Regions from separate parts of the Homo sapiens genome. Here all the other regions are linked to region 1. The links come from fine-mapping of genetic effects on gene expression. A gene starts in region 1. Each other region holds a variant in brackets. All regions are shown on one strand. Distances are between the middles of the regions.

Evidence for each region. PIP is the estimated chance that this variant, and not a neighbour inherited with it, causes the effect.
Region 2: its variant is the best candidate, but not a certain one, in a credible set for the expression of CEACAM19 in blood mononuclear cells (TOPMed, PIP 0.71).
Region 3: its variant is the best candidate, but not a certain one, in a credible set for the expression of CEACAM19 in aorta (GTEx, PIP 0.64).
Region 4: its variant is the best candidate, but not a certain one, in a credible set for the expression of CEACAM19 in substantia nigra (GTEx, PIP 0.83).

What each region holds. Positions count from the first base shown.
Region 1 is chr19:44,668,539-44,674,010 of GRCh38, forward strand. CEACAM19 (CEA cell adhesion molecule 19) reads left to right here and starts at 2,944. Exons shown (of 8, transcript NM_001127893.3): 1 at 2,944-3,448; 2 at 4,058-4,426. The coding sequence starts at 3,394.
Region 2 is chr19:44,634,678-44,640,149 of GRCh38, forward strand. IGSF23 (immunoglobulin superfamily member 23) reads left to right here. Exons shown (of 5, transcript NM_001205280.2): 4 at 724-788; 5 at 1,742-2,104. The coding sequence ends at 757. Among named protein-coding and RNA genes, the nearest start is that of PVR, 6.5 kb to the right of the region's middle. RefSeq lists an enhancer at 2,072-2,366. The variant G/C (reference allele first, on the strand shown) is at 2,403.
Region 3 is chr19:44,610,403-44,615,874 of GRCh38, forward strand. It overlaps IGSF23 (immunoglobulin superfamily member 23), which reads left to right and starts at 3,161. Exons shown (of 5, transcript NM_001205280.2): 1 at 3,161-3,368. The coding sequence starts at 3,244. RefSeq lists an enhancer at 4,573-5,074. The variant A/C (reference allele first, on the strand shown) is at 2,354.
Region 4 is chr19:44,234,942-44,240,413 of GRCh38, forward strand. ZNF227 (zinc finger protein 227) reads left to right here. Exons shown (of 6, transcript NM_182490.3): 6 at 1-2,327. The coding sequence ends at 1,889. Among named protein-coding and RNA genes, the nearest start is that of ZNF233, 22 kb to the right of the region's middle. The variant A/C (reference allele first, on the strand shown) is at 2,540.

The DNA.
Region 1 (5,472 bases):
TATATAATTATATAATTATATACATATTATATATGTATATAATTATATAATTATATACACATATTATATATGTATATAATTATATAATTATATACACATATTATATATGTATATAATTATATAATTATATACATATATTATATATTATAATATATTATATATTATATTATATATTATAATATGTATATATAAATATAATATATAATATAATATAATATAATATATATAATATAATATATAATTATATATAATATATATTATATATAAAATAATATATATATATTCAGTTTTTTTTTTTGGAGATGGAGTCTTGCTCTGTTGCCCAGGCCGGAGTGCAGTGGCACAATCTTGGCTCACTATAACCTCCACCTCCCAGGTTCAAGTGATTCTCCTGCCTCAGCCTCCCGAGTAGCTGGGATTACAGGCATGCGCCACCACGGCCAGCTAATGTTTGCATTTTTAGTAGAGACAGGGTTTCATCATGTTGCCCGGGCTGGTCTTGAACTCCTGACCTCAAGTGATCTGCCTGCCTCTGCCTCCCAAAGTGCTAGGACTACAGGCATGAGCCACCACGCCTGGCCTATTCAGTATATTTTTTTGAGACATGGTCTCACTCTGTCACCCAGGCTGGAGTGCAGTGTCATGATCAAAGTTCACTGCAGCCTTGACCTCCCAGGTTCAACAATCCTCCTGCCTCAGCCTTCTGAGTAACTGGAACTATAGTTGAAAGCCACCAAGCCTACCTAATTTTTTAAATTTGTTTTGTGTAAAGTTGGGGTCCTACTATGTTGCCCAGCCTGGTCTCCAATTCCTAGGCTCAAGCAATCTTCCCACCTCAGCCTCTCAGAGGGGTAGGATTACAAGTGTGGGTCACCTGTGCCTCCCTAAATTTATATTTAAATAGCCACATATGACTAATAGCTATGATATTAAACAGCATAACACTAGACCCTCCATTATCCAAGCTCTGTTGATCCAACCAACAGAGCACATTTGATCTCTCCTACCTCCCAGCCTCACACACACAGGCCCCACACCCTCCTTCCTGGCTCCACTCACCCAAGATATTGCAACCTCCTCAATACACCTTGATGACTATCTCAGCCTCCACATCCTTGCATTGCTATTTATGCTGCCTGGTGCACCTCATGCTGCCTCACCCCATCATCTGCCTCATTTCTACTCTTACTCCAGGTCTCAGCTCAGATGCCCCCTCCCCCAGGAAGCCCTCCCTAGCCGTCAGGTTGAATGAGGTGTGTCTCCTTGGGCTCTCCCAGACTCCTGGGCTCCTCCATCCCAGCCCTGATCACTCTGGATCATAATTGTGTGAGAGGGGTCTGCCCCCCCAAACCCTACAGGATTGTGTGCCCTACTGTGGACAGAGGGCAGAGCAGAGGTGGTCTCAATCATCACTGTGTCACCAACATCACCCAGCACACACAACTGGGCACTGGGAATGTGTGCTGGAATGAATGGAGGATGCTTTTTAAAAACTAGGCTAAGCCAGGTATGGTGAGTCACATCTGTAATCCCAGTACTTTGGGAGGCTAAGGTGGGAGGATCACTTGAGCCCAGGAGTTCAACACCAGCCTGGGGCAACATAGTGAGATCCCATCTCTACAAAACATATAAAAATTGACCAGGGATGGTAGCACACAACTGTGGTCCCAGCTACTCAGGAGGCTGAGACGGGAGGATTGCTTGAGCCCAGGAGTTGGAGGCTGCAGTGAGCAATGATCATGCAACTATACTCCAGCCTGGGCAACAGAGCGAGACCCTGTCTTAAAAAAAAAAAAAAAGAATAACACACTTGGAATAAACATGATCCAAAAAAGTACAAAACATACACTCTGGGGCTGGGTGCAGTGGCTCATGCCTATACTCCTAGTACTTTGGGAGGCCGAGGCAGGAGGATCATCTGAGGTCAGGAGTTTGAGACCAGCCTGGCCAACATGGCAAAACCCCATCTCTACTAAAAATACAAAAATTAGCCAGGCATGGTGACGCATGCCTGTAATCCCAGCTACTCAGAAGGCTGAGGCAGAAGAATCACTTGAACCTGGGAGGCGGAGGTTGCAGTAAACTGAGATTGTGCCACTGTACTCCAGCCTGGGTGACACAGCATCTAAAAAAGAAACCAATCCAAAAACTACAAAATATTCTTGCAATTATAGGTGACATATTTAAATGGTAAGACAACCAATGTTCATGAATGGAAAGACAGAGCAAGACCCTGTCTCAAGAAAAAAAAAAAAAAAAAAAAAAAAAAAAAACAGGCTGAGCGCGGTGGCTCACACCTGTAATCCCAGCACTTTGGGAGGCCAAGGTGGGCAGATCACCTGAGGTCAGGAGTTCAAGACCAGCCTGACCAACATGGAGAAACCCTGTCTCTACTAAAACTACAAAAGTAGCCGGGCGTGGTGGCGCATGCCTGCATTTCCAGCTACTCCCTGAGGTGGGAGGATCGCTTGAACCCAGGTGGCAGAGGTTGCGGTGAACTGAGATTGCGCCATTGCACTCCAGCCTGGGCAACAAGAGCGAAACTCCATCTCAAAAGAAAAAAAAAGAAAAACACGAGGCTAAGAGCTTTTTTTTTTTTTTGAGACGAAGTCTCGCTCTGTCACCCAGGCTGGAATGCAGTGGCGCGATCTCGGCTCCCTGCAACCCCTGCCTCCCAAGTTCAAGTGATTCTCCTGCCTCAGCCTCTCCAGTTGCTGGGATTACAGGTGCCCACCACCACGCCTGACTAACTTTTGTATTTTTAGTAGAGACAGGGTTTCACCATGTTGGCCAGGCTGGTCTCAAATTCCTCACCTCGTGATCTACCCACCTTGGCCTCCCAAAATGCTGGGATTACAGGCGTGAGCCACCGCACCCAGCCTGCCTCAGAGCCTTCAAGTGAGTCAGCCACAGGTGAAATCCCACCTCTGTCTATTGGCAGACTTGCCTCTTTTCCTGGGCCTCTGTTTCCACATCTGTGCAATGGGAACAGTTATTTATGGTGGCTGCTGAATGAGGCAGTGTGTGTTTGAACAAACCCAGGGGAATTGTTCAAACAGAGGCTGTTATGACTATTGCTACAGTGACTGCTGTTGTAGTCACGCTGAGTGAGAAAAAGAGGTTGAAGAGGGTCAGGGGAGGAGTCCTGGGAAGTTCCCCAGTCACCCTGAAAAACTGGTTCAACCTCTGTCTGTGCTCCCATCCCAGGGAGTATAGGTGGAGCCTCCAGAGCCCATGGACAGGGCATGCTGGGGCTGGGCCAGCCCCAGCGGTGTCTCTAAGGCACCCCTGGGATCCCCACTGAGCTGGCCTACTTCAGACAGCCAGGGCCCACCCCTCTGGCCCCCTTAGTGTCCAGCTCGTGGCCCCTTGGCATTTCCACAAGACGCCAAGATGGAGATTCCCATGGGGACCCAGGGCTGCTTCTCAAAGAGCCTCCTGCTCTCAGGTAAGGAGGAAATAGACCCTAAAGGCCAAGGGGAGAAATGGGGACTCAGCCCAGAGATTGAAGTTTCCTCTTAGAAGTAGGGAAAGATTACCTGAGAGGATGAAATTAGAATAAGATGGGGGAGGGGCAACAGAATCACAGCCTCATTGCCATTTTATCTATGGAATTTTCTATAATGTTAGGACCATGAAGGCAGGAATTTATGTATGTTTGGTTCCCTGCTATATCTCCAGTGTCTAGAAATTGAAGGAAGTTTAGATGTATTACATATAGTTGGTATTATAGCTTATATATTACATATGCCTATAAGTATTGGTTGAATAAATGAATGAATGAATGAATTCAGAGAGTCCATGTGTTTAGAAGCAGGCCACACAGCATCTCAAGGTAGAAAAACCTCTGGATCAACAGGATGGCAAATCTGTGGTAACCATGCCTGTGTTCCCACTCCTGCACCCAGGGCAGACATCACTAATCAATCCCAGCATTGTTTCCAATGAGCAGCACTCAGAGTCCTTGCTCCCCGCTGAAGATCTGTATCTAGAGAGGAGCATGCCATGGTCCCTGGCAACACCCCTGATCTCAGCCCTTCCCTGTAACTTCCCACAGCCTCAATCCTGGTCCTCTGGATGCTCCAAGGCTCCCAGGCAGCTCTCTACATCCAGAAGATTCCAGAGCAGCCTCAAAAGAACCAGGACCTTCTCCTGTCAGTCCAGGGTGTCCCAGACACCTTCCAGGACTTCAACTGGTACCTGGGGGAGGAGACGTACGGAGGCACGAGGCTATTTACCTACATCCCTGGGATACAACGGCCTCAGAGGGATGGCAGTGCCATGGGACAGCGAGACATCGTGGGCTTCCCCAATGGTTCCATGCTGCTGCGCCGCGCCCAGCCTACAGACAGTGGCACCTACCAAGTAGCCATTACCATCAACTCTGAATGGACTATGAAGGCCAAGACTGAGGTCCAGGTAGCTGGTAAGTGTTAGGGTCTGGGGATGAGGTGAGGAAGCTAATGAGCCCTGAGCAGCTACCATGCACCAGGTGCTGTGCAAACACCATTTCATTTGGTCCTCTCATTTATTCACTTGACACATATTGAGCATCTACTGTGTACCAATCCCCAGAGATAGTCTTTAACCCTCACATGCATTAACTAATAAAATATCTATGAAATGCCCGCCTTGTGCCTGACACTGGAGAATGCACCATCTCATTTACCTTTCACATGCACTAACATTAACCAAATTTTTATCGAGCACTTACTGTATGCCTGGTTGTGAGGAATGCATCCCTCAATCTTTATGTTTATAAAGCGAGTATTTACTGATGAATCCACTCGGGGCAAAGTGTGAGGGAAAGGGTGGTGGGCAATAATGACAGCTGGCATTTCTTGGGTGATCGTTAAGAGCCAGGCACCATCTTAAACATTTTCCCTAAAGCATAGTTTCTCAGCTTCAGCACTACTGATGTTTTGTATTGGCCAGTTCTTACTAGTAGAGGGTTTGTGCATTGCAGAGATTTCAGCAGCACCCCGGCCTCTACTCACTAGGTACCAGTAGCAGCTTCCTAGTCATGCCAACCAAAAATGTCTTCAGATATTACCAAATGTCTCCACCCTGGGATAAGAATCACCCCTGGTTGAGAACCATTACTCTATATTTACTCATTTTTACCTTAAAACAACTCCATGAGGCCAGCGCCATTATTGTCTCCATTTTACAGATTGAAAAATGGAGGCACGCAGTGGTTATGACTTGCTGAGTAAAGAATACGAACCAGAATGATGTGACATGGGAAAGGAGGTCATCAGGGAGACCTCACTCAAGAAGTGACCTTAGAGGAGAGACCAGAAGAAGGTGATTGAGGGAGGGAGGTGCTGTGGCCCCTTGCCATTTCCACAGGACACAGATCCCCTTAGAATTTATATGTTGAAATCCTAACCTCCAAGATGATGGTATTAAAAGGTGGGGCTTGGGCCTGGCACGGTGGCTTACACCTGTAATCCCAGCACTTTGGAAGGC
Region 2 (5,472 bases), 34 kb before region 1:
TATGGCCAGATTTTGGGGGGCATGTTCCCAACAGAATCTCTTGAACCTGGGAGGCGGAAGTTGCAGTAAGCCAAAATAGCGCCACTGTACTCCAGCCTGGGCAACAGAACCAGACTGTCTCCAAAAAAAAGAAAAAAGAAAAAAAAAAAAAAACCCAGGGATGTGATTATACTTCCCTCCAAAGACAGGAGTGAGGATTAAGTAAAATGGTGGGAGTCATGAGCTGTGAACAGTGCCTGGAATGTGATGAGCCTTCAATAAACCTCAGCCATGTGATGATGATGATTGTATTAGTTTGCTCCAGCTGCTGTAACAAAAATGCTACAGACCGGGGGGGCTTAAACAACAAAAATTTATTTTCTCACAGTCTGGATGCTGGAAGTCCAAGATCAAGGTGGCAGCCAGTTTGATGTCCCATAGTGCCCCTCTCCATGGCTTGCAGAAGGCCACCTTCTCACTGTGTCCTCACGTGACCTTTTCTCTATGCTCATCCCTGGGGTCTCTTCCTCTTCTTGTAAGGATACCAGTCTTATTGGATCAGGACCCCACTCTTATGATCTCATTTAACCTTACTGTGTCTGAAGAATCTATCTCCAAATATAGTCACATTGGAGGGTTAGGACTACATATTAATTTGGGGAACGGATAATAATTCAGTCGATGATTCTTATTCTCTCTCTCTCTCTCTCTCTCTCTCTGTCTCTCTCTCTCTCTCCACTGCAGGACTGACAGGCAGAGAATAGGAATATGCAGCTGAAATGTGGGCAACTCTCCTGTCAGCTGAAGAGGTAATACCAGGAAGGGTGTGAAGGAAATCCTAGGTTTGGGAACAGAAAGAAGTTCTTGGGCAGAGACTCCATATGTGATTTCCTCCCTCCTGGTTCCCTGGTCATTTGTCTGTGAGATGTTCCCCTCCTGTGGAGAGCTCCAGGAGCTGCTTTTCTCTTCTTTTGCCAACTGCCAGCACCCCATCTGCCCAGCTCATCAAATTCCTGGAAGCTGCCTAAACAAGCAGTCTATATTTCATAAACCTCTTGGGCTCCATGCAAAAGAAACTCACTGACGTAGCTCAGGAAAAAATAAAATGAACAGTTTAATATAAGGACCTATGAAATTTTTCAGCAATCCATAGGTGTGAGTCAGCATTTGCTTTGTAACAAACTGCCTCCCCAAAATTCACTGGCTTGAAACAACAGCCATTTATTTAGCTTGCAATTTCATGGGTCATCCATTTGGGCTGGGCTCAGCTGGGTAGTTCTGGTCTCTGCCAGGCTCGCTCCTGCATCTGGGGTCAGTTGACAGATTGCCCAGGGGCTGTCTGGACTAGGATAGCCTCATAGCTGGGACAACTGGCCTCTCCTTCATGTTGTCTCTCATCCTCCAGCAGGGTGACCCAAGCTTGTTCACATGGCAGAGGCAGGATTCCAAGAGTAACAGCAGAAACTTCAAGGCCCCTTAAGTCTCAAGCTCAAAATGGACATGCCATCACTTCTGCCACAGAAAGGACTTCATTGGCCAAAGTTACATGACTGGCCAAATTCAAGGGATGGGGAAGTTGACTCCACCTCTTGCTAAGAAGGGAAAAATCTGTGGCCATTTTTGCAATCTACGAAGAAATGTGGAAGTACACACAGCTCTCTCTGCCAGCCTCCCCCACACACACACTTCACCCCCACCCCAAGCCCTTACAATTCCTTTCCTCCTGCATGTGGAATTTACAGTTCTCTGTCTCTCTCTGCAGATGGGTGCTTTGTACCTCTCTATCCACGTGGAAAAAAAAACCCATCCCATAGCTTCCAAGTCTACAACATCTCTGTTCAAGGGAACAACCCAACGTAACCAGACTCCCTTTGCCCTGTTTCTGAAACACCTGAAGAAAACATCTGATGGGTTGACTCGGTGCCATCCTTGGTCCCATCGCCGTGACACGTTGTGCAAGCAAAGCATCAGAGGCTCATCCCTGTCTGTGGGAGCTCAGTGCTCAGAAAACAGGGGGGAGGTTTTACCTTGGAAATTGGCCAGACCCCAAAATATGTCTTTTACACATGCTGCTTTTTTTTTCTCTTTTTCAAAAAGAACCAAAAAATAAATTAAAACACCACCACTTCTGAATGGTTTCTCATGAAGCCTCTCTTCCTGAGAGTGGGAGAGGCATGTTTGCAAATAAGATCAACCTTTGAGCTTTGCACTGTTCAAGTTTAATACCTCTCCATAGGAGGATCCTGACAGATAGCAGGCACAGGGCACACAAGTATGGCTGAAACTCCTCTGGGGGATATATCTCACATTTGAGGAAAATTCGGTGCTTCTGTGACCAACACAGAACCACCTAACATGGCATTCTGCTTAGCAATAATAGTAGCAGAACTGAGTCCAAGTCTTGTCTGTTGAGGGCTCTCCAT[G/C]TGCCAGCCACTGACTATTTACCTTACATGATTAATGTGTCATAGCAGGCCAGGCGCAGTGGCTCACACCTGTAATCCCACCACTTTGGGAGGCCAAGGCAGGTGGCTCACCTGAGGTCAGGAGTTCAAGACCAGCCTGGCCAACATAGTGAAACCCCATCTCTACTAAAAATACAAAAATTGGCCGGATGTGGGGGCACATGCCTATAATCCCAGCTACCGGGGAGGCTCAGGCAGGAGAACCACTTGAACCCAGGAGGCAGAGGTTTCAGTGAGCCGAGATCATGGCCACTGTGCTCCAGCCTGGGTGAGGGAGTGACAGTATCTCAAAAATAAAATAAAATAAGTAAGAGATGTTAGCCAGGCACGGTGACTCACGCCTGTAATCCCAGCATTTTGGGAGGCCAAGGCGGGCAGATCACCTGAGGTCAGGAATTCAAGACCAGCATGGCAACATGGTGAAACCCTGTCCCTTGTTATCACACGAATGGGGATGTGGCTTGTGTGCTGCCTAATCTTGCCTAGAACTAGGTGTACCTGCGTTCTTTTGCTTATGGCTTTACCCTTGGTTACCCTAATTCCCTATTCTCCTGCCTCAAGAGGTGACCACAGCAGCCCTGGGCCTGCCCTCCTAGGGCTTATAGTACAGTGAGGGAGACAGACCTGTTCCCAGTGATGACCCAGAGTCATCACTCTCCTCTGGGAGGCCAGGGGGGAGTCTTAATGGAGACTGGAGGATCCAGGAGGGCTTCCTGGTGAGGGAGGGGTCAGCTGTACTAGAGAACAACATTAAGATCATTAATAACAAGAGCAGCCAGATGGCCGGGCACGGTGGCTCACGCCTGTAATCCCAGCACTTTGGGAGGTGAGGCAGGCAGATCACGAGGTCAGGAGATCAAGACCATCCTGGCTAATACAGTGAAACCCTGTCTCTACTAAAAATACAAAAAATTAGCTGGCGTGGTGGCAGGAGCCTGTAGTCCCAGCTACTCGGGAGGCTGAGGCAGAAGAATGGCGTGAACCCGGGAGGTGGAGCTTGCAGTGAGCCAAGATCGTTACCACTGCACTGCAGCCTGGGCAACAGAGCGAGACTCCGTCTCAAAAAAAAAAATAAATAAATAAAAGAGCAGCCAGGTCTTCTGGTTGGAGTTGGTGTTTAAGAAAAATAAAATTTAAAAATTAAAATTTTTTTGGCCGGGCACAGTGGCTCACAGCTGTAATCCTAGCACTTTGGGAGGCCGAGGCAGATGGATTGACTGAGCTGAGCTCAGGAGTTCAAGACCAGCCTGGCCAACATGGCGAAACCTTGTCTGCTAAAAATGCAAAAAAAATTAGCCAGGCGTGGTGGTGCGGGCCTGTAATCCCAGCTACTTGGGAGGCTGAAGCATGAGAATCGCTTGAACCCGGGAGGCAGAGGTTGCAGTGAACCAAGATTGTGCCACTGTACTTCAGCCTGGGCAGCAGAGCAAGACTCTGCCAAAAATAAAAAAATTTTAAAAATTGTTTAAAGAGCAGCCACGTCTCCATAGTGGTAATTGTCAGGCATCGCACCAAAGAGCTTTAATGCGTTCTTCTCAAACAGTCCTCCCACTTCAGCCTGCCAAAGTGCTGAGATTTCAGGTTTGAGCCACTGTGCCATGCTATGCCCATTTTTCAGATAAAGAATCATAAGCCCCAGGAGACATCAATAATAATTGCTGCCATTTGTTGAGCAGTTAAATAAATAACTTTTTAGACCATATATTTCTTTTTTTTTTTTTTTTTTTTTTGAGACAGAGTCTCACTCTGTTGCCCAGACTGGAATGCAGTGGCATGACGTTGACTCACTGTAACCTCCACCTCAAGTGATTCAGCCTCCCAAGTAGCTGGGATTACAGGTGTGCACGACTACCACCCAGCTAATTTTTGTGTTTTTAGTACAGATGGGGTTTCACCATGTTGGCCAGGCTGGTCTTGAACTCCTGACCTCAAAAGTGTGGGGGAAAGAAAGAGAGATCAGACTGTTACTGTGTCTATGTAGAAAAAGGAAGACATAAGAAACTCCATTTTGATCTGTACTAAGAAAAATTCTTCTGCCTTGAGATGCTGTTAATCTGTAACCCTAGCCCCAACCCTGTGCTCGCAGAAACGTGTGCTGTATTGACTCAAGGTTTAATGGATTTAGGGCTGTGCAGGATGTGCTTTGGTAAAAATGTGTTTGCAGGCAGTATGCTTGGTAAAAGTCATTGCCATTCTCCAGTCTCAAGTAACCAGGGACACCATACACTGCGGAAGGCAGCAGGGACCTCTGCCCAAGAAAACCTGGGTATTGTCCAAGATTTCCCCCACTGAGACAGCCTGAGAGATGGCCTCGTGGGAAGGGAAAGACCTGACCGTCCCCCAGCCCGACACCCATAAAAGGTCTGTGCTGAGGAGGATTAGTGAAAGAGGAAGGCCTCTCTGCAGTTGAGATAAGAGGAGGGCATCTGTCTGCTGCTCGTCCCTGGGAATGGAATATCTCGGTGTAAAACCCGATCGTACATTCTATTTACTGAGATAGGAGAAAACTGCCTTATGGCTGGAGGTGAGACACACTGGCAGCAATACTGCTCTTTACTGCACTGAGATATTTGTGTAAAGTCAAACATAAATCTGGCCTACGTGCACATCCAGGCACAGCTCCTTTCCTTAAATTTATCTATGACACCGAGTCCTTTGCTCACGTTTTCCTGCTGACCCTCTCCCCACCATTACCCTATAGTCCTGCCACATCCCCCTCACCGAGATAGTAGGGATAGTGATCAATAAATACTGAGGGAACTCAGAGACCAGTGCCGGTGCAGGTCCTCACTTGCTGAGCACCGGTCCCCTGGGCCCACTTTTCTTCCTCTATACTTTGTCTCTGTGTCTTATTTCTTTTCTCAGTCTCTCGTCTCCACCTTGTGAGAAATACTCAGAGGTGTGGAGGGGCAGGCCCCCTTCAAAATGATCCACCCACCTCAGCCTCCCAAAGTGCTGGGATTACAGGCATGAGCCACCATGCCCAGCCACATATAACTTATTTCTAAATAACTTATTTAACTAACACCAC
Region 3 (5,472 bases), 58 kb before region 1:
AAGCAATTCTCCCACCTCAGCCTCCCAAGTAGCTAAGACTACAGGCACATGCATGCCACCATGCCCAGCTAATTTTTTTATTTTTTTGTAGAAATGGGGGTCTCATTATGTTTCCCAGGCTGGTCTCAAACACCTGGCCTCAAGCAATCCTCCCACCTCAGCCTCCCTAAGTGCTGGGATTACAGGCATGAGCCACCACACCTGGCCTTGGTCATCTCTTAATGCAGAGGTTTACATGGAGTTCTGCAGTCCTCAGAAACAGTGACCTGCTAAGTTCTCCTCGTCCTGCAGGGGTCCGCTTCACCGTCTCTTCCCCAGAGTCTTCCCTTATCCAGCCTGAGTCTCAGCTAGATTGAGAGTCAGATCCTTTCAAAGCTCTGTTTTTCATCTTTCCTTTCCATTAAAGTTCTTTCTTTTCTTTTTTTTTTTTTGAGACCGAGTTTCACTCCTGTTTCCCAGGCTGGAGTGCAATGGCGTGATCTTGGCTCAGCACAACCTCTGCCTCCTGGGTTCAAGAGGTTCTCCTGCCTCAGCCTCCCGAGTAGCTGGCATGCACCACCACGCCCAGCTAATTTTCTATTTTTAGTAGAGACAGGGTTTCTCCATGTTGGTCAGTCTGGTCCAGAACTCCTGACCTCAAGTGATCCGCCTGCCTCGGCCTCCCAAAGTGCTGGGATTACAGGTGTGAGCCACCGTGCCCGACCTCAATCAAAGTTCTTTTGGGATTTAAAGTAACTGAATCCCAAAACAAACTGACTTCAGGGGAAACAATGAGAATACACAGACCAGCATAGCACACAAGCTGAAGGATCAGTATGGACATCAGGCACAGCTGAATCTAGGTGTTTAAATGATGCCATTAGAAATCTCTCTTTCTGTGCATTGACTATGCTTTCACATGTGTTGGCCTCGTTTTTAGGCAATCTCTCTACTCATGATAGAAAGATGGCCCCCAGCAGCTGCACACTGAGATCTCTTCAGCTCAGCAAACCCGGAAGCAAGAAAAAATGCTTTTAGGCTGGGTGCGGTGTCTCACGCCTATAATCCCACCACTTTGGGAGGCCGAGGCAGGTGGGTCACTGGAGGCCAGGAGTTCAAGACCAGCCTGGGCAACATAGTGAAAGACTGTCTCTACTAAAAATATGAAAAAATTAGCTGGGCATGGTGGCACATGCCTGTAATCCCAGCTAATCCGGAGGCTGAGGCATGAGAATCTCTTAAACCCCAGAGGTGGAAGTTGCAGCGAGCAGAGATCACACCACTGCACTCCAGCTTGAGCAACACAGCAAGACTCTGTCTTTAAATAAATAAATAAAAATTTAAAAACAGAAAAAAGAAAAATTGCTTTATTCCCCAGAGTTCCAATAAAATCCGTAAGAGATTGCTTCTCCTTGGCCTGTTCTGAGTGCCACGCCCAGGTCTCCAAAAATCACTGTTGTCAGGGGATGAAGTGCTCTGATTGGCCAGTCCTGGGCCCCTCACCTCCCTGGAGCCATGAGGAGGCTGGTTTCCAAAAGAGAACTCCAGGTGCTGTTACCTGGATACAAGAGAGTACTGGCTGGGTAGAAACCCCAGAAACCTTACAACATAATGGTTATTAACTGCATCGTAAATATTTACTTTTTCCTACAGTGGTCTCCTGACCTAGCTAATCACTCCAGCAGAGGCCTTCAGACCAACTATAAAAAAGGCACTTTAGCAAATGCTAATAAAGAAATAACTGTGTCACCTGATAATGACTATTATTAGAGACTTATGGGTGAACCTTAGCCCCTGGGTGGAACCTGAACCTCTCTGGGAGGGAAAAGCATGAGCTTCTAAGTCAGAAAGATCTGAGTTCAAGTCTGAACACTCCCATTTCACTCACTTGCTCTTCATTCATTTATTCACTAAAAAGAAAACATGTAGGCTGGCTAGGTGGTTCATGCCTGTAATCCCAGCACTCTGGGAGGCTGAGGCAGGAGGATCACTTGAGCCCAGAAGTTTGAGACCAGCCTGGGTAATATAGTGAAACTCTATTTCTACAAAAAGAAAAAAAATTTAATTGGCTGGGAATGGTAGTGTGAGACTGTAGTCCCAGCTACTCAGGAGACTGAGGCAGGATTATTGCTTGAATCCAAAAGGTTGAAGCTGCAGTGAGCTATGACCGTGCCACTGCACTCCAGCCTGGCTGACAGAGTGAGACCCCGTCTCAAAAACAAAAACATGTATTGAGCACCTGTTATATGCAAGGCACTGTTCTAGTCACTAGGGACATAGCCACAAGCCAGACAACATCCCTGCCCTCCTGGATCTGATATTCAAGTCGGAGAGGTGGGACTAAGGAGGGAGAGACAGATAATACAAGTGGACA[A/C]ATAAATAAATCATCTAAAATAGCGGTAAATGATGTAAAGAAAACAAAACAGTGTGGCTTGCTAGCAAAGAGGTGGGGAACTGAGTTGCAGCAGGCATTAAGAAAGGCCTTTTTGATAGAGTGATGTGTGTGAATTAAGCCAAAATAATAAGATACAGTCAGCTTTGAGATTACATGAGTAAGGTTCTAAGGAGAGGGAACGGCTCATGCAAAGCCCCTGAGCTGGTGCCTCCAAAAACTGGCAGAAAGCCCCTGTGAACGGTTGTGTGATGGTAGGTGAGTTACTTAGCCCCTGTGCACCACGAGAAAATGGGGATGCTCATATCTACCCCTCGAGGTTGCTATGAGGATTCAAATTAGGCAACCCTGTTACAAGGTTAATGCTGTGTCCGGCATATAGTAGGTGTTCAATAAACACCAGCTATTAGTTTGAGTAATATAATTATTAATTTGAGGAGGAAAGAATGGACCTGGGGAGTGAGAAGGGTGAGGAAAAAGTAGCTAGTGTAGCTTATCCTTCTAGAATCTAAAATTCAGGATATAGTCTGAGCAAGCTCCTGATAACGGGATTCTAAACATGCCTCCAGGACATCCTAGACACCAAATTATAATTAGCATTGACTTCATAGTGACTGCCATTCGTTGAGCGCCTACTACGTGACCAGGCACTACTCCAAGCACCTTGTGTCCACGGCCCTGTCTGACTCTGGGGCAGGCACTATTATTAACGCCTCCATTTTACAGAGGAGAAAAGCTGTGGTTCAGAGTCCAAAGCCCCGTCACCTCCTACCAGGTTGACCTTTGGCCATTCCTTGCCTTTGATGTGAGTGATAGGAGCGGGCGATTCTGCTTCTCCCTCCATCTCCCGGCGGGGATTGTACGGTGAGAGAATGAGAGCAAAACCTCAGAGCCCCCTTCCCAGGAACCCTGTCCCAGCCTGGTCCCCACCCACCACCACCACTGACCCGATGCTAGAGAAGGATGCGGCTGGAGGTGACTTCCCAGCCAACTTGGTGTAAGTCATGTGGGGAAGTGGCCAGGGTAGGGCATGGTCATCGTGAGCAGGGTCCTGCAGGGTGAGGCCGGGGCTGCAGACGCGACTGTACAGGTCTATGAAGACCCCATGTGTGATGAGGAGACCTTCTCTGCACAGTCCCTGGACAGAACACGAGATGAGGGGTCCTCTGGACGTCAGCTCCAGCCACACCCCTACCTGGAGGAAGCTGCTTTTAACAGGTGCGTTGGAGACAGCGGCTTCACCACGGGCCAGGGACAAGGAGGAGAGTGTCTCCTTACGAGTCCAAGTCACCCCCACTCAGAGCTTTGACCCTGTCAGTTTGAGGCCCATGCAGCTCAGGCACCCAACTCATGAGAACTCTTGAAGGCCACTCCGCCACAAGAGATGACCCTATTGGCTTCTTTTAGGAAGAAGGGAAGTGAGGCGCAAAGAGGAGAACAGGTCACCTACCCAAGATCACAGGGCTGGCAAGGGGCAGGATCAGAATTTGGGACCCCAGCCCAGCCCCCTTCCACCAGAATGCCCTGTCTCACCCCTGCAATCCGCAACTTAGTAATAATACATATAAATAATAACAATCATAAAATAATAACAGCCGTAATAGAAGGTCACTGTAACTGAATAGATCTATATACCAGCCTGTTTGGGGTTTTTGTTTTTTTGTTTTGTTTTGTTTTGAGACAAGGTCTTGCTCTGTTGTCCAGGCTACAGTGCAGTGGCCCGATAATGACTCATTGCAGCTTCAACCTGCTGGGCTGAAGCTGTTCTCCTGCCTCAGCGTCCTGCGTAGCTGGGACCATAGGTATGCGCCACCAAACCCAGCTAATTTTTTATTTTTAGTAGAGATGAGGTCTTACTATGTTGCCCAGGCTAGTCTCGAACTCCTGGGCTCAAGCGATCCTCCTGCCTCGGCCTCCCCAAGTGCCAGGATTACAGGCGTGAGCCACTGCGCCCAGCCTGTCAGCCCGTTCTAAGTGCTTTCCTATAGTAACATTTACCTCTTATCACAACTCTTTGAGATCAGAGCTGTACGATCCCTATTTCACAGAAGGGGAAACTGAGGTTCAGAGAGGTCATGTGCCCTCTCCAGGTCACACACTTGGAAGTGGCAGACTGAAGATTTGAAGCCAGATGGGCTGGCTTCCCAGACCACACTTTCCAGAGACCACACACATCTGCCTCTCAGATAGTGAATGAATTGCTTCCTTATCCAGGTCTTAAAAGTTCACTTCTGAGTTGGGCGCGGTGACTCACACCTGTAATCCCAGCACTTTGGGAGGCCGAGGCAGGCGGATCACGAGGTCAGGAGATCGAGACCATCCTGGCTAACACGGTGAAACCCCGTCTCTACTAAAAATACAAAAAATTAGCCAGGCCTGGTGGCGGGCGCCTGTAGTCCCAGCTACTCAGAAGGCTGAGGCAGGAGAATGGCGTGAACCCGGGAGGCGGAGCTTGCAGTGAGCCAAGATCGTGCCACTGCACTCCAGCCTGGGCGACAGAGCACGACTCCGTCTCAAAAATAAATAAATAAAGTTCAGTTCTGAGCCGGGTGCAGTGGCTCACGGGTGCAGTGGCTGGGATTACAAAGTGCTGTAATCCCAGCACTTTGGGAGGCCAAGGCGGGCGGATCATCTGAGGTCAGGAATTCAAGACCAGCCTGACCAACATGGAGAAACCCCGTCTCTACTAAAAACAGAAAATTAGCTGGGCGTGGTGGTGCATGCCTGTAATCCCAGCTACTTGGGAGGCTGAGGCAGGAGAATTGCTTGAACCCAGGAGGCGGAGGTTGCGGTTAGCTGAGATGGTGCCATTGCACTCCAGCCTGAGCAACAAGAGCGAAACTCCATCTTTAAAAAAAAAAAAAAAAAGTTCAGTTCCATGTAATTTTAAAACCTCAAAGTCCACCTAGTTCAAAGCTTTGCTCTGTCCCCAGCTCAGGCAGGTGTCACACTGGAAGGAGGAAAGGGACGTGGTGGGCCTCTTCCCTATTTTGTCAGAGCTGTTGTCTGAGGCCTCTCTCAGGGCGGAGGGCAGAGGGGAGGAAGGAAAGAAAAGGAGATTGGAAAGTTTCTCCTAGGCTGCTGTAGTTTTGTGATGGAAA
Region 4 (5,472 bases), 430 kb before region 1:
TTTGGAGAACCCAGCATTCTTGCGGGAATACATATCTGAGTGAGTCACAGATTCAGAGTAGAGGTAAGCAAATTGATGTGAAAAATAACCTGCAAATACATGAAGACTTCATGAAGAAATCACCATTTCATGAGCATATTAAAACTGACACAGAACCAAAACCCTGCAAAGGTAATGAATATGGCAAAATCATTAGTGATGGCTCCAATCAGAAATTACCCTTAGGAGAGAAACCCCATCCATGTGGTGAGTGTGGAAGGGGCTTCAGTTATAGCCCAAGGCTTCCCCTTCATCCGAATGTTCATACAGGAGAAAAATGCTTCAGTCAAAGCTCACATCTGCGAACTCATCAGAGAATTCACCCAGGAGAGAAACTCAATAGATGTCATGAATCTGGTGATTGCTTCAATAAGAGCTCTTTTCATTCTTATCAATCTAATCATACAGGAGAGAAGTCTTATAGATGCGACAGTTGCGGCAAGGGATTCAGTAGCAGCACGGGTCTTATCATTCATTACAGAACTCATACTGGAGAGAAACCCTATAAATGCGAGGAATGTGGTAAATGCTTTAGTCAAAGTTCAAATTTTCAGTGCCATCAGAGAGTCCACACTGAAGAAAAACCATACAAATGCGAAGAGTGTGGTAAGGGCTTCGGTTGGAGTGTTAATCTCCGTGTTCACCAGAGGGTCCACAGGGGTGAGAAGCCCTATAAATGTGAGGAATGTGGTAAGGGCTTCACTCAGGCTGCACATTTTCACATCCATCAGAGAGTCCACACTGGAGAGAAACCCTACAAGTGTGATGTGTGTGGTAAGGGCTTCAGCCACAATTCACCATTAATATGCCATCGGAGAGTCCACACAGGAGAGAAGCCATACAAGTGTGAGGCGTGTGGGAAAGGCTTTACCCGTAATACAGATCTGCATATTCATTTCAGAGTTCACACGGGAGAGAAACCCTATAAATGTAAGGAGTGTGGTAAGGGCTTCAGTCAGGCTTCAAATCTTCAAGTCCATCAGAATGTCCACACTGGGGAGAAACGATTCAAGTGTGAAACGTGTGGGAAGGGCTTCAGTCAGTCCTCAAAGCTTCAAACCCATCAGCGAGTCCACACTGGAGAGAAACCATATAGATGTGATGTGTGTGGTAAGGACTTCAGTTATAGTTCAAATCTTAAACTACACCAAGTAATTCACACTGGAGAAAAACCATATAAATGTGAGGAATGTGGGAAGGGCTTCAGTTGGAGATCAAATCTTCATGCACATCAAAGAGTTCACTCAGGAGAAAAACCCTATAAATGTGAGCAGTGTGATAAGAGCTTCAGTCAGGCCATAGATTTTCGGGTACATCAGAGAGTCCATACTGGAGAGAAGCCATACAAATGTGGTGTCTGTGGTAAGGGCTTCAGTCAGTCCTCTGGTCTTCAATCCCATCAGAGAGTCCACACGGGGGAAAAGCCATACAAATGTGATGTGTGTGGAAAGGGCTTTAGATACAGTTCGCAGTTTATATACCATCAGAGAGGCCACACTGGAGAAAAACCTTACAAATGTGAAGAGTGTGGGAAAGGCTTTGGTAGGAGCTTGAATCTTCGCCATCATCAGAGGGTCCACACGGGAGAGAAACCCCATATATGTGAGGAGTGTGGTAAGGCCTTCAGTCTCCCCTCAAATCTTCGAGTCCACCTGGGTGTTCACACCAGGGAAAAACTCTTTAAATGTGAAGAGTGTGGTAAAGGCTTCAGTCAGAGTGCACGTCTTGAAGCCCATCAGAGAGTCCACACTGGAGAAAAACCATACAAATGTGACATATGTGATAAGGACTTCCGTCACCGTTCACGTCTTACATATCATCAGAAAGTCCATACTGGTAAAAAGCTTTAGAAATGAGAAATGTGTTACCAACTTTTGTCTGAATGCACATCTTCAAGTTTTTGGCTAGTCCATGCTGGTGGTAAACCCTGTAAAACTACTGAGAGTGGAAGGGGGTTTGTTCACACTTGGAATCTTTCTAACAAATCCATCAAGATGATAACACAGAACCATGAACAGGAATAGAACTCGTATTTAGGGGAGAAATAGGGCTGGTGGCTCTCTTGGTAAGATCTAGTTAATATAAATGATCACCTTTCATTGTGAATATATGCCTGAAGATAATGTGTGGAAGGATATTTGCCATATGCTAACTGGTTTTTTGGCCAGGGAGAGTTTTGGGTTATTATCCCTTTTCTTTAATTTTCATTTTATACTTACAGTGATCATTATTTTCATAAAAGCTGTAAAGCTATGAAAAATGAATAAAATTACTAAAAATTTTCTGTAGCTAAGGACTCATGATTCTTTTATATGGTATATAGGTGTAAAATTAAGGAATATATCCCCAGAGATGAATCTTTGATCTTCAGAAGTAAATTTATATCTGCTGTAGAGGTGTATTAAAGGATAGTAGTATGGCCGGGCACGGTGGCTCACGCCTGTAATCCCAGCACTTTGGGAGGCCAAGGTGGGCGGATCACAAGGTCAGAAGATTGAGA[A/C]CATCCTGGCTAATATGGTGAAACCCCATCTCTACTAAAAATACAAAAAATTGGCCAGGCATGGTGGCACGTGCCTGTAGTCCTAGCTACTCGGGAGGCGGAGGCAGGAGAATCGCTTGAACCCAGGAGGTGGAGTTCGCAGTGAGCCAAGATTGCGCCACTGCACTCCAGCCTGGTGACAGAGCGAGACTCCATCTCAAATAAATAAAGAAGAAAGAGAGAGAGAGAGCAAGAGAAAGAGAAAAGAGGATAGTCGGTGCATCATTGTTTTAGTAGCAAACATAGAAATACTTGGATTGCCAAAGTATTTTGTGCTTTACCAATCCAGTGGCACACTATGCAGACATCAAATGGGAAAAGGTAAATTTTTAGCTGTGGATATTGGAAGATGTTCAGAATATATTAACTTGAAAAACAAAATGTGAGATTTTTATGTGATCCTATTTTGTAAAAACGCATAGATGAATGGGTATTATAGTTCTCTCTAAATAATGGGATTTTACTTTATGTATATTTTTATATTTCTTTAAACTTATTTTGAAATAATTTGAAACTTTCAGAAAAATTACAGAAATTATATAAAAGCTCCCATATACTCTTTACCCAGATTCACCAGTTGTTAAGATGTTTGAATTATTCTCTCAATAAGTATGAGCGTGTATATACTGATACTTATACATACTAAACGCATTTATATATAAAGTTTTGCCATATGAATATGTTACAGACATCCTTCTCCCTACACTAAATACTTAAGTGTGCTTTCCTAAGAACAAGGATATCTACTTAGTTACAGTACAACATTCCAGTGATTTATTTATTTAGAGACAGGGTCTCATTCTGTTGCCCAGGCTGAGTGCAGGGTGGTGATTATAGCTCACCGCAGCCTTGAACTCCTGGGCTCAAGCAATCCTCCCCACTCAGCCTTTCAAGTAGCTGGGACTGCAGGCGTGGACCACCATGCCCACCTAATTTTTAAGATTTTTGTAGAGATGGGCTCTCGCTATGTTGTCTAAGCTGGTATCGAACTCTTGGGCTTAAGTGATCGTTCCACCTCAGCCTTCCAAAATGCAAGGTTTACAGGCATGAGCCACTGCACCCAGAAAGAAAATTTATTATTGATACATAACACTATGTAACCTACAGACCTTATTTAAATCTTAAAATTATCCCAATAATATATTTATTGTTTTTCTGCTCTAGAGTCCAAAGATTACACATTGCATTTAGACTCCTTTAATCTGAGTTGCTACCTCTGTTTTTAATGACCTTGATATTTTTGAGATTATTTTGTAGAATGTCTCTTAATTTGGATTTGCCTGAGGTTTCCTTACAATTGGATTTAAATTACACATTTTTTTCCCATGAGGACTCTGTAAGTGGTGTGCAGCACGTGAGGAAACGAGGTATGTTTGTACCTTTATAGGTGATGTTAACTTGGAACACTTGATTGGGGAGGGCGGTGCTGGGTTTTTCCACTGCGAAATTACTATTTTTTTCTTTGTAATTAATAATTACAAAGGCAACTCCTGGGGAGACACTTTCTGACTCTAAATAGCTTGTTTTTCAGTAAATTTTCCTCCACTAGTTTAAGCATTCTGTAAGTCTGGTCTAAATCAGTAATTGCTCTGATGGTGCGAAAGTGTGATATATTCAACTTTCATCATTCCTCCAACACTTGTTAGATTGTTGTTCTACTCTAAGGAAGTTTCCCTTCTGTCCTGTTTGCCCATCATGTATTTTTAAATAAATTGGAGCACATCTTTACTCTGACACAATACAGTGTTCCAAGCTCATCTTGTACCCTTCCTGCACCATCCATGGAATTTGCTGTTTCTTTGAGAACTCAGATTCTTCTGATTGGGGGATGGTAGTTAAACATCAAGATCTGGGTAATAGCTGTGCCTTTTTTTTTTTCCCTCTAGGAAGGAGGGGAAAGAGTTATACAGATAGGAAGAGAAGTAGAAAGGTAGAAAGAATTAATGATGAGTTCCTGCTTTTATCTCTAGTTCTTAAATTAATATCATAGTGTTTTTTTTCTAGCCTTACCCCCATTCTATGTTGCATCTTCATTCTTCAAGAATCAGAAATTTGTCTCCCAGTATCATTCATATATTTACTGGGGAATGTGGACATGCATCCAACTAGAACTTGGGGGTTCTGTCTTTCAGAGAGAACGGGAGTATTGGATGACTGATGCCAGAGATGATTTTTGAATGGCATAGTCTCCCAAACATTATAATTTTTCCTATTCTCAGGGTATTGACCCTTTAAACCAAATAAAATGTTCCCGTAGGGCCATGAAGAAAAGTATCTGATAGAAATATCCAAAGATAGATATATTCAGATGAGAGCCTTCCAGTCAATGTTTCCTTGCAGATAGTGTTAAGGAATGGTTTCTGGTGAAGTGTTGCGGAGCTCTCCTAGCCTGTGAGTGTCACGGATGCCATTGATTAGCATTGCTTTACTTTATTTACCTCTCATTCTCTGAACCTTCTCAGAGGTAGTTTGACAAAGTTCTCAAAGCACATCCCTCTACTGCTTCTTGAGAGGACCAAGGCATTTTAGGAGAAACTAGTGTTAACGAGACCAAGTCAGAATATTGGTAATAAAGTAGTAGAGTATAATAGAAAGCAGACTGTCAGCCAGGCACAGTGGCTCACACCTATAGTCTCAACTACTCAGGAGGCTGAGGTGGGAGGATCACTTGAGCCCAGGAGTTTGAAGCTGCAGTGAGCTGTGATTGGACCACTGCATTCCAGCCTGGGTGACAGTGAGACCCCATCTTGAAAAAGCCAACTGGGTGCAGTGGCTCCCGCCTTTAATCCCAGCACTTTGGCTGGCCGAAGTGGGTGGATCACCTGAGGTTAGGAGTTCCAGACCAGTCTAGTCAACATGGTGAAGCCCTGTCTCTACTAAAAATACAAAAAGTT